Regions from separate parts of the Homo sapiens genome. Here regions 1, 3 and 4 are each reported to be linked to region 2. Evidence: microRNA targets listed by miRTarBase, many of them from high-throughput screens and not tested one by one. Region 2 holds a microRNA gene; each other region holds the end of a gene's coding sequence.

The links. The annotated mature microRNA hsa-miR-4693-3p reads UGAGAGUGGAAUUCACAGUAUUU and lies in region 2 at 1,774-1,796, shown strand. An mRNA with a match to its seed (bases 2 to 7 or 8) in the 3' UTR can be bound and repressed. Matches are read on the target gene's strand: a 7mer-m8 pairs with bases 2 to 8, a 7mer-A1 pairs with bases 2 to 7 and ends in A, and an 8mer does both.
Region 1: miRTarBase lists PCBD1 as a target of hsa-miR-4693-3p. Seed matches in the 3' UTR shown: 7mer-m8 at 772-778.
Region 3: the mRNA of CCDC88C is a reported target of hsa-miR-4693-3p. Seed matches in the 3' UTR shown: 7mer-A1 at 537-543 and 7mer-m8 at 1,506-1,512.
Region 4: miRTarBase lists CHMP4B as a target of hsa-miR-4693-3p. Seed matches in the 3' UTR shown: 7mer-A1 at 2,635-2,641 and 7mer-m8 at 2,599-2,605.

What each region holds. Positions count from the first base shown.
Region 1 is chr10:70,881,415-70,884,525 of GRCh38, reverse strand. It overlaps PCBD1 (pterin-4 alpha-carbinolamine dehydratase 1), which reads left to right. Exons shown (of 4, transcript NM_000281.4): 4 at 478-1,016. The coding sequence ends at 576. Among named protein-coding and RNA genes, the nearest start is that of PCBD1, 5.6 kb to the left of the region's middle.
Region 2 is chr11:103,848,178-103,851,288 of GRCh38, forward strand. It overlaps MIR4693 (microRNA 4693), which reads left to right and starts at 1,729; the gene lies at 1,729-1,803. LOC102723862 (a long non-coding RNA gene) reads right to left here and starts at 1,374. Exons shown (of 4, transcript XR_001748346.2): 1 at 1,237-1,374.
Region 3 is chr14:91,270,011-91,273,110 of GRCh38, reverse strand. CCDC88C (coiled-coil domain containing 88C) reads left to right here. Exons shown (of 30, transcript NM_001080414.4): 30 at 1-1,788. The coding sequence ends at 486. It also overlaps a transcript of GPR68 not described here. Among named protein-coding and RNA genes, the nearest start is that of GPR68, 27 kb to the right of the region's middle.
Region 4 is chr20:33,853,314-33,856,313 of GRCh38, reverse strand. CHMP4B (charged multivesicular body protein 4B) reads right to left here. Exons shown (of 5, transcript NM_176812.5): 5 at 1,948-2,818. The coding sequence ends at 2,754. Among named protein-coding and RNA genes, the nearest start is that of CHMP4B, 43 kb to the right of the region's middle. RefSeq lists an enhancer at 2,547-3,000.

The sequences.
Region 1 (3,111 bases), not on the chromosome of region 2:
TGGGAGACAGAGCAAGACTCCGTCTCAAAAAAAAAAAAAAAAAAAAATACAGACACATAGCCAACCTATCAAATTATTTGCTTAATGAATAGAAACAGTCATTAAATGTCTACCATGTGCCAAAAGCTCTGCTGGTCTCTGTTTATAAAAACAGTAAGGGTGGAAGAGGTCGTCTATGAATGGATAGTGTTTAGGAGTTGGCATTGGTTTTTGGTTTTGTCTTTAGCTTTTAGGTTGCTCTTGACATTCAGATATTAAGCTTTTATTCTATAGCTGAAGTCATGATTATTTTTGAGAGACAGCAAAGGGGAGATGTAGAAGATGTTGTTACAGACATGTCAGGAAGGAGTCCCCAGGAGAGATCGTACTGGCCAGCTGCTATTCTGGAGCTCCTAGCAGGGCTGAGCCCAGCAGCTAGTGACTCCCTCCTGTTCTTAAGTGAAGTCAGTGGAAGCAGAATTTCTGGTTTCATTTCAGGTCCACATCACGCTGAGCACCCATGAGTGTGCCGGCCTTTCAGAACGGGACATAAACCTGGCCAGCTTCATCGAACAAGTAGCAGTGTCCATGACATAGACCCTGCCCTTCCTCTTTGAATTCTTCCGGGGGAAGGGGTGACTGAACTGGGAGTCCAGGGAGGGAGCTGAGGAGCCCTTACCCTCCCACCACTCCCCTCCCAAGACCCAGCCGCCGCCGTTGAGGGCTGAGTCCTTGCTGTGGGATGTGCCAGTGTCCCCACCAACACCAGGAATTTAGACCTTTTCCCTGCACCACTCTCTTCATCCTGGGGGCTCTGTTACACTAATTTGAATAAACTCTCCCCTTTCTTTGCAACTTCCCAGCAACAATAATGATTTTCTTGCCAGGCCGTCTCTTGCTCCCTAATTCATTTCCCAGGAAGCTGTGATACAGGGTGAAATAAAGTCTTGTCTTAGAAACCAGGACCCTAAACCCCACACTATGTAATAGAAACACATGTGTTTTTATGTCTCAAATAAAACTATTATATCACTTGGTCTCAGGCTCTAGAAACTTCTTTTCCACAGGTCAATCCAAATTGGAGTCAATAGGCATTTAAATGAAAGCACTTCCTCTGTGCTAGGCACTTCCTCTGTTCAAGGTACTGGAAAATGACAGGGACCAGACCACCTTGCCTTCAGATTCATTATCATCTAGGGGATACCATTTGATTATCATCAAACAGGAACACAATTAACTATTACCAATTACCAATTAACTAGTACTAATTAACTATTACTAGAGTGAATTAATGCTAGGTGGCAGGATAAGAAATGAGCTAAAGGGAACGCAAGTGATTAATGGTGAAAAGGGCAAATCTGGAGGCTTTGAGTTATGCCTTGAAGACCTGGGTAGGATTCTTGGGAGGCAGAGATGGCTGAGAGAACACCATGAACACAGATAAGGGTGTGAAGGGCACAGGTATTATATGCATTGTGGAACCTATGTCTAGAAAGGCAGTCTGGGGCCATATTACAGGTTGAACATCCCTAATTTGAAAATTGGAAATCCAAAATCTGAAACTTTTTGAATGCCAACATGATGCCCAAAGGAAATACTCATTGGATCATTTTAGATTTCTGATTTTCAGATTAGAGATGCTCAACTTGTCAGTATAATGCAAATATTCCAAAATCCAAAATCTGAAACACTTCTGGTCTCACACCTTTCAGATAAGGGATACTCAACCTATATTTTCTTCCTGGCTGTGATGGCTAATGTTAGGTGTCAACTTGATTGGGCCATGGGGTGCCCAGGCATTTGGTCAAACATTCCGGGTGTGTCTGTGAGGGTGTTTCTGAATGAGGATAACATTTGAATCAGTAGACTGAGTAAAGCCGACTGTCTTCCCTAACATGGGTGGCCTCATTCAACCAGGTGAAGGCCTGTACAGAAAAAAAGGGCTAAAAAGGGCTGACCCTCTTCCAAATAAAAGGGAAGTCCTCCTGCCTGACTGCCTTGAGGTGGGACATTGGTCTTTTCCTGCTTTCGGACTTAAACTGAAACATCCACTCTCCTTAGGTCTCAAGGCTACAAGCCTCCGGTGTGCAACAATACCATCTGCTTTCCTGGTTCTCCAGCTTGCCAACTACAGATCTTGGGACTTGTCAGCCTCCATAATCACATGAGCCAATTCCTTATAAGAAATCTCTTTGTGTGTATTGGTTCTGTTTCTCTGGAGAATCATAATACACAGGCCTATCATATCAGATATGGCAGATCCCAAATCCTGATGGTCTCTTCAGTTTCTTAAAATCTTAGCAAAGTTCTTAGGGCTTGCCTGGTTTACTCCACAAGAGAGAAGACACAGGCAGCTTAGGACCTGGCAGGCTATTTATTACTGGAGCAGTTAAGAGATGGTTTGCACAGTCAGTTCCCCAGCCAGGAACTCTCTAGGACAGAATATTCCCACGCTGTCATGAAGAAGGGGGCACTAAGAGCAGCCTCATCTCTACCCCCACGAGAATGCCACACAAATTTTACCTCACATATGTCACTATGCAGAGACTGGGAAGCCTTCTTCCTAATAGTTCTCACCTGTGTCTCCTAACTCAAGTACTAAGCTGACTTGTAAATGCCGGGGTCACTTGGAACAGGAATCTAGCCATGTCACAACTCAGTCTGAATGAGTTGGTCCCCCAGCAAAGGCCAGGAAAGGGGCAGAGGCTGGAGGTTGAGAAATAAGCGTATTGTTCACAAGAGGGATTAGCAGGACCCCGTTCCTAGCATATATGCTAGTAAAGGATTATCAATACCTATATTGATGGCAAACGAGATTCAGACAGTGGTCTCCCATCTGCTCCACTTCTGACTTAAAATTTTCCAAGTGTGCTTTGATCTGATGACTGGAGGACTGAAGGACAGAAGACGCCAGATGCGGAGGTATGGACTATGCTGTTATGTTACATTCCTGCCTCTGCTTATTTTCATGGGTCAAGGGTTGAAAAATGTTCACCCGATGCAGGGACAGCTCATGCCTGTATTTCCAACACTTTGGGAGGCCAAGGCGGGAGGATCATTTGAGCTCAGGAGTTAGAGACTAGGCTGGGCAATGTAGAGAAACTCTGTCTCTACAGAATATACAGAAAAATT
Region 2 (3,111 bases):
AGGATTAAATTAGTTAAAATGCTTAGAACAATATTTATACCTAGTGTTAAAATGTCAATATTATATTATCATAAGTTTTATTACCCTCATCTGATTTTTTGTAAAGTCTCTAATGATTTGACTCCTGAATTGACAATAATCTCTGAAAACTGTCAGAGGCGTTTGAACCAGAGCAACTCCATCTTGAATAGAAGCTGGTTAAATATGGTTGAAACCTACTGGGTTGCATTCCCAGATGGTTAAGGCATTCTAAGTCACAGGATGAGATAGGAGGTCGGCACAAGATAAAGGTCATAAAGACCTTGCTGATAAAACAGATTGCAGTAAAGGAGATGGCTAAAACCCACCAAAACCAAGATGGCAATGAAAGTGTCCTCTGGTCGTCCTCACTGCTACACTCCCACCAGCGTCATGACAGTTTACAAATGCCATGGCAAGTTACCCTATATGGCCTAAAAAGGGAGGGCATCAATAATCCATCCCTTGTTTAGCATATCATCAAGAAATAACCATAAAAATGGGCAACCAGCAGCCGTCGTGGATGCAGTCTATGGAGTAGCCATTCTTTTATTTCTTTACTTTCTTAAGAAACTTGCTTTCACTTTACTCTATGGACTCGCCCTGAACTCTTTCTTGTGAGAGATCCAAGAACCTTCTCTTGGGGTCTGGATCCTGGATTGGGACCCCTTTCCTGTAGCTGAACGGTCACATTACTTTGTTGCTTATTCATATGTTTAAGCATCTTTAAGATCCTCACTGCAGCGAAATAAAGCTCAGAACTTCAAACACTATAAGTATTCCCAGGCCCTTGCTGCTATGTCTTAGATATTTACAGCTTCCCCTGAATTCTTTTTTCTTTATCCTTTGTTTTGGGGAAGGTTGTTTTATGTTTTTCTATTCTCACTTATATTATTTCTCTCCATTTCAGTTTAATATTATTTTTCATTTTTCCTTAATATTCATAATTCAGTTTTCCCCCACACTTGGCACCCTACCCTCTACCCTCTGTCTTCAATTCTTTCCACAATTTTCGCTCCTTCCCTTTTTGCTGTCTCAAGTGAGAACATAGGCACATTTATTTAACCCCACTGGAAATCCTGTGTTTTTGTAGGAAAAGACTTGCTTTCTTGGCAGTGCTAAAAATAAAGTAATTACTGAAGGAATGCATGATGGGGCCAGTTAGTAACCTGATAAATGGAACTTGGATACAAAGCAGAGATGAATAAAAAGACTCACCTGGTCCAGGATACTGGCTTAAAATGAGCCCTGCAGCAAGGCTGACTTGATTATGAGCTCCAAACCAGGAGGCTTTTCTTTCCTCAGTCTAGGAGGCAGGAGTAAGCCTGACAGTGGCAAGAAAGTATCCTCAAGAGTGGGCTAGGGAGGGATGGGGTAAGTTGTGCTGGTAAGGACACCGTGGGAGCAGTGAGCCAGTACATTCCATTCTTACATTTTTTGGCTTTAAAAAACGGAAGGACAGAGCTATATTACTCCATTTCTATTTTGTGAAAAAGTGTAAGCTTAATAATTTTAAAACTCAAGGCTACGTTTGATTTTTCCAAAGCACAATTAAATAAAAAATAGCTCCCTCAGTGGCTCATACCTATAAGAAGCCAAATGGTTTGGATAAAAATACTATTCCCAAGTCACCAGCATCAGCCTGTATAAATAAAATTATTAGGACAGGCAAAGCAATTCAGAGGAAAGAGCATCGCTTGGGGGTAAAATGTTTAAAGAATACTGTGAATTTCACTGTCACAAATTCAAATAAAGTGAGAGTGGAATTCACAGTATTTAAGGAATCAATCCTTGCTGCTTCTGTTTATGAAGCCGAGCTTCAGTTTTCTTGCTCTGACAATGGACACAGTGATTACCTCAAGGGTTGCTGTAGGAGTTAGATGAGATATCTATAATGTAGGAAAGGTGTTTACTACAATGTAACTCATGGATAGGGGCCTATATTGGTTTTCCATTGCTGTGTAACAAATTTCCATAAACTTAGTGGCTTAAAACAACAGACATTTATTATCTTTCATTTCTGTCAGAGGTCCAGGCAACTGAGTGGTTGATATCTCTGTTCAGGGTCTCACGAGGCTGAAATCAAGGTGTCAGTTAGCTGCATTCCCCTCTAGAGACTTGACTAGGGAAGGATTCTTTTCCAAATTCCTTCAAGTTGTTGGTAGAAGTGTTTCTTGCTAGCTTCAATTAGGGATGGATCTCAGCAACTAGTGACCACTCTCAAGTCTTTATTATATGGCCCCTTTTATACTCAAAACCAGCAACAGAGAATTCCCCCTCACATCAAATCCCTCTCACACTTTCAATCTCTATGACTCAGAAACGGGCTCACCTGGCTAGGTCAGACCCACCAGAATATTCTCCATTTTGGCTAGCTCACAGTCGCCTGATGAGCAATGTAATCATAGCAGTGGTATCATACACACAGGTCTGCCTGCACTCAAAGGAGAGTGATTATCAAGGAATGCACACCAGGGGCGGCAGGAATCTGGCAGCTATCTTAGAATTCTGCCTGCCACCATTTCCATTAAGTGATTGTTGTTGTTTGTTACTGAGGCATAGATGAAGTAGCACTTATGCAGGAAAAAAACCACTAGTCAATCAGAATTTCAAGTTGTATGATGAGGTATTCCATAGAAATTAAACATGCGTATAACAGATTCTCATAGGTCAGGACACATGAAAAATTTAAGGAAAGGATGAGGACTCCTTAATTTAGAGGGACTTCTGAAAGGTGACTTAATGATGACCCAACACTATATGTGAAATCATGTTTGGCTTCAAAAGCACTGTGGGCAGAAAAGGAGAAAACGTTTAATCTAGAGTACACAGTTATGGCATTATCTGGAGGGAAGGATAAAGCTACAAAGATTGTTAAAACTAAAATTTGTTGCCAAGGGAGCCATTCGAGCTCTGTCTGGAGATCTTCTAAATGAGAGTAAATTATTCTGTACTTGAGGTGGTTTGGGCACTGTCCTCCCTGAAGCCAATGTAGAGATAAAGTGTTGTTTTCACTCCTTCTAGTCCTGTGATTCTGCGTCTAAGGAGGCAAACCACCTATTGAATCAGTGCTCACCACAGGCTCCATTGCAG
Region 3 (3,100 bases), not on the chromosome of region 2:
GGCAGCTCCTGTCAGGGCCCAGGTCCCCGCAGCCGGCCGCTGGACACGAGGCGCTTCTCCCTGGCTCCCCCAAAGGAGGAGAGGCTGGCCCCCCTGCATCAGTCTGCCACAGCCCCCGCCATTGCCACTGCAGGTGCTGGTGCTGCTGCTGCTGGCAGTGGCAGCAACTCCCAGCTCCTGCACTTCTCACCTGCTGCAGCCCCGGCTGCCAGGACCAAGCCCAAGGCGCCCCCACGCTCAGGGGAGGTGGCCACCATCACCCCTGTCCGGGCAGGGCTCAGCCTCTCAGAGGGAGACGGGGTCCCGGGGCAGGGCTGCAGTGAGGGGCTTCCGGCCAAGAGCCCAGGTCGGTCTCCCGATTTGGCTCCCCACCTCGGCCGGGCCCTGGAGGACTGCAGTCGAGGGAGCGTCTCAAAGAGCAGTCCGGCCTCCCCGGAGCCCGGCGGGGATCCGCAGACCGTGTGGTATGAGTACGGCTGTGTGTGACTGTCTCGTGGTTGAGCTCGCAAACCTGAAAACTACTGACGCGCCTTCCGACTCTCACGGCCTTTTCTCTTGCTTGCCTGCGGTGCCAGGAGAGGGTTTGGAATGAGGAAAGGGGTTCCCACGCATTTCTGCTGTTTGTTCTGTGAATGGAAACACTGTGCCAAGCCCCAAGAGGATTACGCTTCCAGGTGTGTAACGTGTTTTCTGTGTCTGCCGCTTCCAGCAGCTGATATCTTTGGAACAAATAATCCACGTCAGCATGGGGACCAATTAGGATGCAATGACAAACTGACTTCCCCCAAAGCAGACACTACTCCAGTATGTCCCAGTAGAACACTCATTTGCAATGTGTTGAGCTCCGTTAAGCACACACACACTCACACAACAGGCTTACGAGGCTCAGGCCTGGCGGGTCAGAAAGCCCACTCCCTCTCCCAAGGCCACTGGATCCCAGGAGAAGCCCAGACTGGCGATACTACAAAGGTCTCCAGGGCCTGGCAGACCCCAGAGTCAGGCCTGCTGTTAAAAAGTGAGAGTGCTGCTGTTCCATTCCTGGGGTCCCAAGCACTTCCCTTTACCCCAGGACCCAGGGCAGCCTGCAGGGCAGCTGGCGGTGGCCTTGGCCATTTGCCCCCAGCCTCCAGCTGGCTCCTGAGCTCTGCACCAGGGGGTTTGGGGACCACACAGGCACCTGCCTTCCTAGATTTCCCTGGCTCACTTTTCTGCAAACACTGGATCTGCCAGGCCTGGGGATTGGGGGGCAGGAAAGAGGCCCCCATCCAGCCCCCTCCAGGCCAGTGTGCACAGTGCACCGAGGGGTCATCCGCACAGAGCGAGGTGCAAGCTCGATGTGTAACCTGGCTGCGGCACCCGACATCCCCGGTCTCGGGGTGTTGATTTATTTCTGAATAACTTTTTGGGTATAGAAACCAATTTTTTTTAATATATGACATGTATATGTACACACTCATGTGAAATATGTATACTTTGGGGGGATCTATTTATGTTCCAGTGGGAGTCACTCTCTTCTGTCGGGAATCTTATCTGCTGCTTTGTGTCTTTGGTCAGATTCCTGACAATTTAGTTTCCTGTTGTAAAGGTGCTTTTCCTGGGGTGAACTAAACCTATTGATTTTTTTTTTTTAAGATTTTTTTTTCCTTTTGATTTAATATACTGAGAAAGAAATGGGAGACTTTTGAATGTTAACAAGATCCATTTTAGGAGTGTTTGGGGTTGTGTATTAAATAGCCATTCATTCTGGAACTCAAGGACAGGACTGTAATAAAATGGAATGGAACCGAAGTGCGTTCTGGCTTTCCTCACTGCACATTGTTAGCATCGGGTGGGCCCCTGGGGACTTGGGGCTCCCTGCGCCCCTCCTTATGCACCCCTCCCTCTGCTCCCCTTCCTCTGTGCCCCTGCACCCCTCCCTCTGCGCCCCTCCACCCCTCCCTCTGCGCCCCTCCCTGTGCCCCTCCCTCTGCACCCCTACCCCTGCGCCCCTCCACCCCCCTGCGCCCCTCCACCCCCCTGCGCCCCTCCACCCCCCCTCTGCGCCCCTCCCTCTGCACCCCTCCCTCTGCACCGCTCCCTCTGTGCCCCTCCCTCTGCGCCCCTCCACCCCTCCCTCTGCGCCCCTCCCTCTGCGCCCCTCCACCCCTCCCTCTGTGCCCCTCCCTCTGCACCCCTCCCCCTGCACCCCTCCCTCTGCATGCCGGCGACCCTTCCTCCACAGTTGGAATCCACCACTTTCCTTGCCACTAGGTGGGGGAAGCTGTTACACGTGCAACCAGAGACAGATGTGAAGGACAAAGATTTCCTGTACGGTGACAGCTTTCCACCCCTCCTCAGGTGTGTTTAAGTTGGCATCAATTGAATCCTATTTTATTTGTTTTTCTAATGGGTCACCACCACCACAGGGGGCATGCAATGGGCTGGAGACCAGTCTGGGCAACATAGCAAGACATTGTCTACAAAAGATAGAAAAATTAGCCAGGCGTGGTGGTGTATACCTGCAGTCCCAGCTACTCGGGAGGCTGAAGACAGAGGATCCCTTAAGCCCAGGGATGTTGAGGCTGCAGTGAGCAGTGATGGTGCCACTGCACTCTAGCCTGGGAGACAGAGTGAGGCCCTGTCTCAAACAAAAAATAAAATAGCGGGGTATGGTGGTTTGCACCTGTAGTCCCAGCCACTATGGAGGCTGAGGCGGGAGGATCACTTGAGCCCCAGCAGTCGAGGCTTCAGTGAACCAGGACTTGTGCCTCTGCACTCCAGCCTGGGCGACACAGCAAGACCCCATCTCAAAAATAATTGAAGAACCCCATTTTGCTATGGCGTTCATCTCATGTCGTGACAGGAGCTCAGCCTGAAGGGGCTCCTTATGATTTTCCCAAGGCTACTCAACCAGTAAATGCTGGATCTGGAATTTGGACCTTAGGGGCCGAAGATACTGAAATCGGATGCATGGTGGAGAGGAGGAAGAGAGGGAAGGAGGAGGCATGAAAATGGCCATGCCTGACCAAGGTTCTTCTGATGTTTTTCTGTCCAGCTGCTGCCTCAGTGTCTCCTTCCTTCTCACCAAGCCTATTTTTTGGCTCTCTCCTCTCACCTCCTT
Region 4 (3,000 bases), not on the chromosome of region 2:
TGACAAAGTGAGACCCTGTCTCAAAAAAAAAAAAAAGAAAAGAAAAAGCCTCTATGTGTGCAGGGTGCCAGAGCAGAAGGATGCAAAGAACCTGGTTCTTGAGGACATGGTTCAGCCACTACCCCAAATCCAGAACCACCCCCTCGCCCCACCACCAAGATTTCTTGTCCTGAGATTGTTAGACTGTAACCACCTTGAGGGCAGGGACTCTGATACCTGTACTCCTGGCACCTTGAACAGTACTTAGCACACAGTAGGTGCTCAATAAATATCTGTTGACTAAGTTTTCATAAATAAGTAAATGTCTCCATTGCTTATACCAGTGGGTTGAGGCTTCTGTTGCTTGTAGCCAAGGAATCCTGACTCAGTAACTTCTCTCTCTGGCCCCAAGAACCTCCTGAGAACAGGAGAGGGGCTGGGTATTACTGAACACTGTACTCCACAGGCCCTGGCACAAGACCCACACTCGGTAGAAATAAGCAGCTCTTGCTCAGAGGAGTCACAGACCCTGCCCTGGACCTGGCTTCTGGGTTCACCAGAGCTGGAGGGTTGAGTCTGCAAGTTCCCCTCACACAGACCTAGGGCAAGACGCCCTGTAACAGCTGATGAGAGGAGCTTAAGAAAGTCCACTGGGGGCCGGGCGCGGTGGCTCACGCCTGTAATCCCAGCACTTTGGGAGGCCGAGGTGGGCGGATCATGAGGTCAGGAGATCGAGACCATCCTGACTAACATAGTGAAACCCTATCTCTATTAAAAATAGAAAAAATTAGCCAGGCATGGTGGTGGGCGCCTGTTGTCCCAGCTACTCAGGAGGCTGAGGCAGAAGAATGGCGTGAATCCGGGAGGAGAGCTTTCAGTGAGCCGAGATCGCGCCACTGCACTCCAGCCTGGGCGACAGAGCAAGACTCCATCTCCAAAAAAAAAAAAGAAAGTCCACTAGGTCTCCCACACCAGCGATACCCAGAGGCCACACCAGCTGCAGGCTGAGCGGGTGGAAGCTGGCAGCAAGCACTGCCACTAGATTTGTCTTGAGGTGAAAGAACTTCTGAGACTAGCCAGATCCAACCTCCACACAAGTCAGGAATTTTTAAGCCACTGTCTTCAAGTCCCTCCCAGTTCTAAGTGTGGCAGCCCTGGGATGCCGCAATGAGGGATGAGGGACAGGGCATGAGCCGCTCAACACAGACAGGACCTCAGGACTGATCTGTTCCCATCCCCTTGCTTTCCAGGTGAGAACAGGAGCCCCAGGGAGGGTAGGCAACTTGCCCCAGGGCGCCCAGTGAGCAATGATGGTGTCTCATTTTGAACTCAGGTTGGTTTTACTTTAAAAGGTTTGGGAGTGAGCACAGGGGGACAGGGGTGTCCTCTCAATACTGCAAATTTGCATGCAAAATTAAGGATAAATATGTAGAGATCCACCTTTCTGAAGAGGGTCCACAGCATGCATCACACTCTCAAGGGGATACAAGACCAAAGAAAAGGGGACAGAGTGGAAGGGGCTGGGCCAGAGTCATATGTTGAGTCTCAGCAGTCCTGAGGTGACCTCTGTGTCCTAGATTCTCAGTCAGTGCCCTACACTTCCTCCCCATGGGAAAGGCCATTTCTTCAATGTTCCTGATGAGCCTTGTCTGATGGGAGCACCATGGCTTCCAACAGTAAGGCTCCTGCTGGCACTGCCCATGGACACTGGCAGAGAAGAAATAGGGAAGACCCTGAAGTACCCAAGAACCAACTCACCCTGAACTGTACCCAGAGAGTCCCCAGGCAAGGTGAGGGCCAATCTAGGACTTGAACAGACTTCTGGTGAGACAAGCTCTGCTCTTTGGTTCAAACTGTTGACACATGTCATGGTTAAGTCTTCCATGTTTCCAGACTCCACTGTACACCTTGCTGGTCTGGAAAGGGTCAGCTCCCGAGGCAAATGATAGATTAAACACAACAGCAAAGTATGAAAATTAATCGAGATATTTAATAGACAGTGCAAACCATAATTTCATCTGAATATAAATGTATGCACGTTTCCAATGAGTTATCTATCAGTTATCACAAACAGCAACAAGGACCTTATAGCTATGTTAGAAAACTGTATAGTTGGAACTTAATTCTAACAATCTCACTTGCTCTCAAGAGAACACCATCCATTTCAAATCAATGTCACAAACTCCAGAAGACCAGGGGAGCAAGGGGGTGAGGAGTGGGCCAGAGTGGTAAACACAGGGCCAATACACAGGTGATGGACAGAAACACAGCTCTGGAGGAAATCAAAATCAGATGCATTATTACAGCTAAGGGCAAGGAAAAGCCTATGGCTTTTGAAAAATGACTTTTCTGCCAGTACCGTACAAGTACACAAAGAGATGTGCGGCAAGTCAACTGACTTACAAGGACAGAGGCTACATTTCAGGTCATTTCAACTGCAACCAGTCGACCCTTTCCATTGAGGATTCAGCAGTGGAGTCAGCGTAGTCCAGAAGCTCAATGTTGGATTTGCAAATACAGTTTATTTTACAGAAATTCAACATTATAAACAGCAGGCACTTCCCACCCCGCCCGCCCCCCTCCCCCCGCCCATCTCCCAGGTGCAGACCATGCTATGCAGAGAGTGAGCAGCAACGCGGCCCTACTGCTTTGGAGTGAGAGTCGAAAGCGATGGAACCTGCCTGCACCACATCCTGCCTGCCCCACACACGCACACGCCTGCTCGCTGCGCAGGCCACCACAGTCTGTCTGGGCCCAGCCAGCGCTGGACCCCATTACATGGATCCAGCCCAGTTCTCCAATTCCTTCATGTCGTCGTCCTCCTCTTCTTTCTTCTTGGCTGTGTGAAGACAGAAAAGGCTATTTAGGATGACTGGTGCGTTCAACATGTTCTGGCCGGAAATGAGGGCTGCCTGTGCTCCATGGTGTCTGTCAAACAGCCCTGCCCTGTGGCCAGACTCCTCTCCAGGCTGTAGGGAGACTGCTCCTTGGTGCCTAAAAGCTGCAACATACAACTCTGGA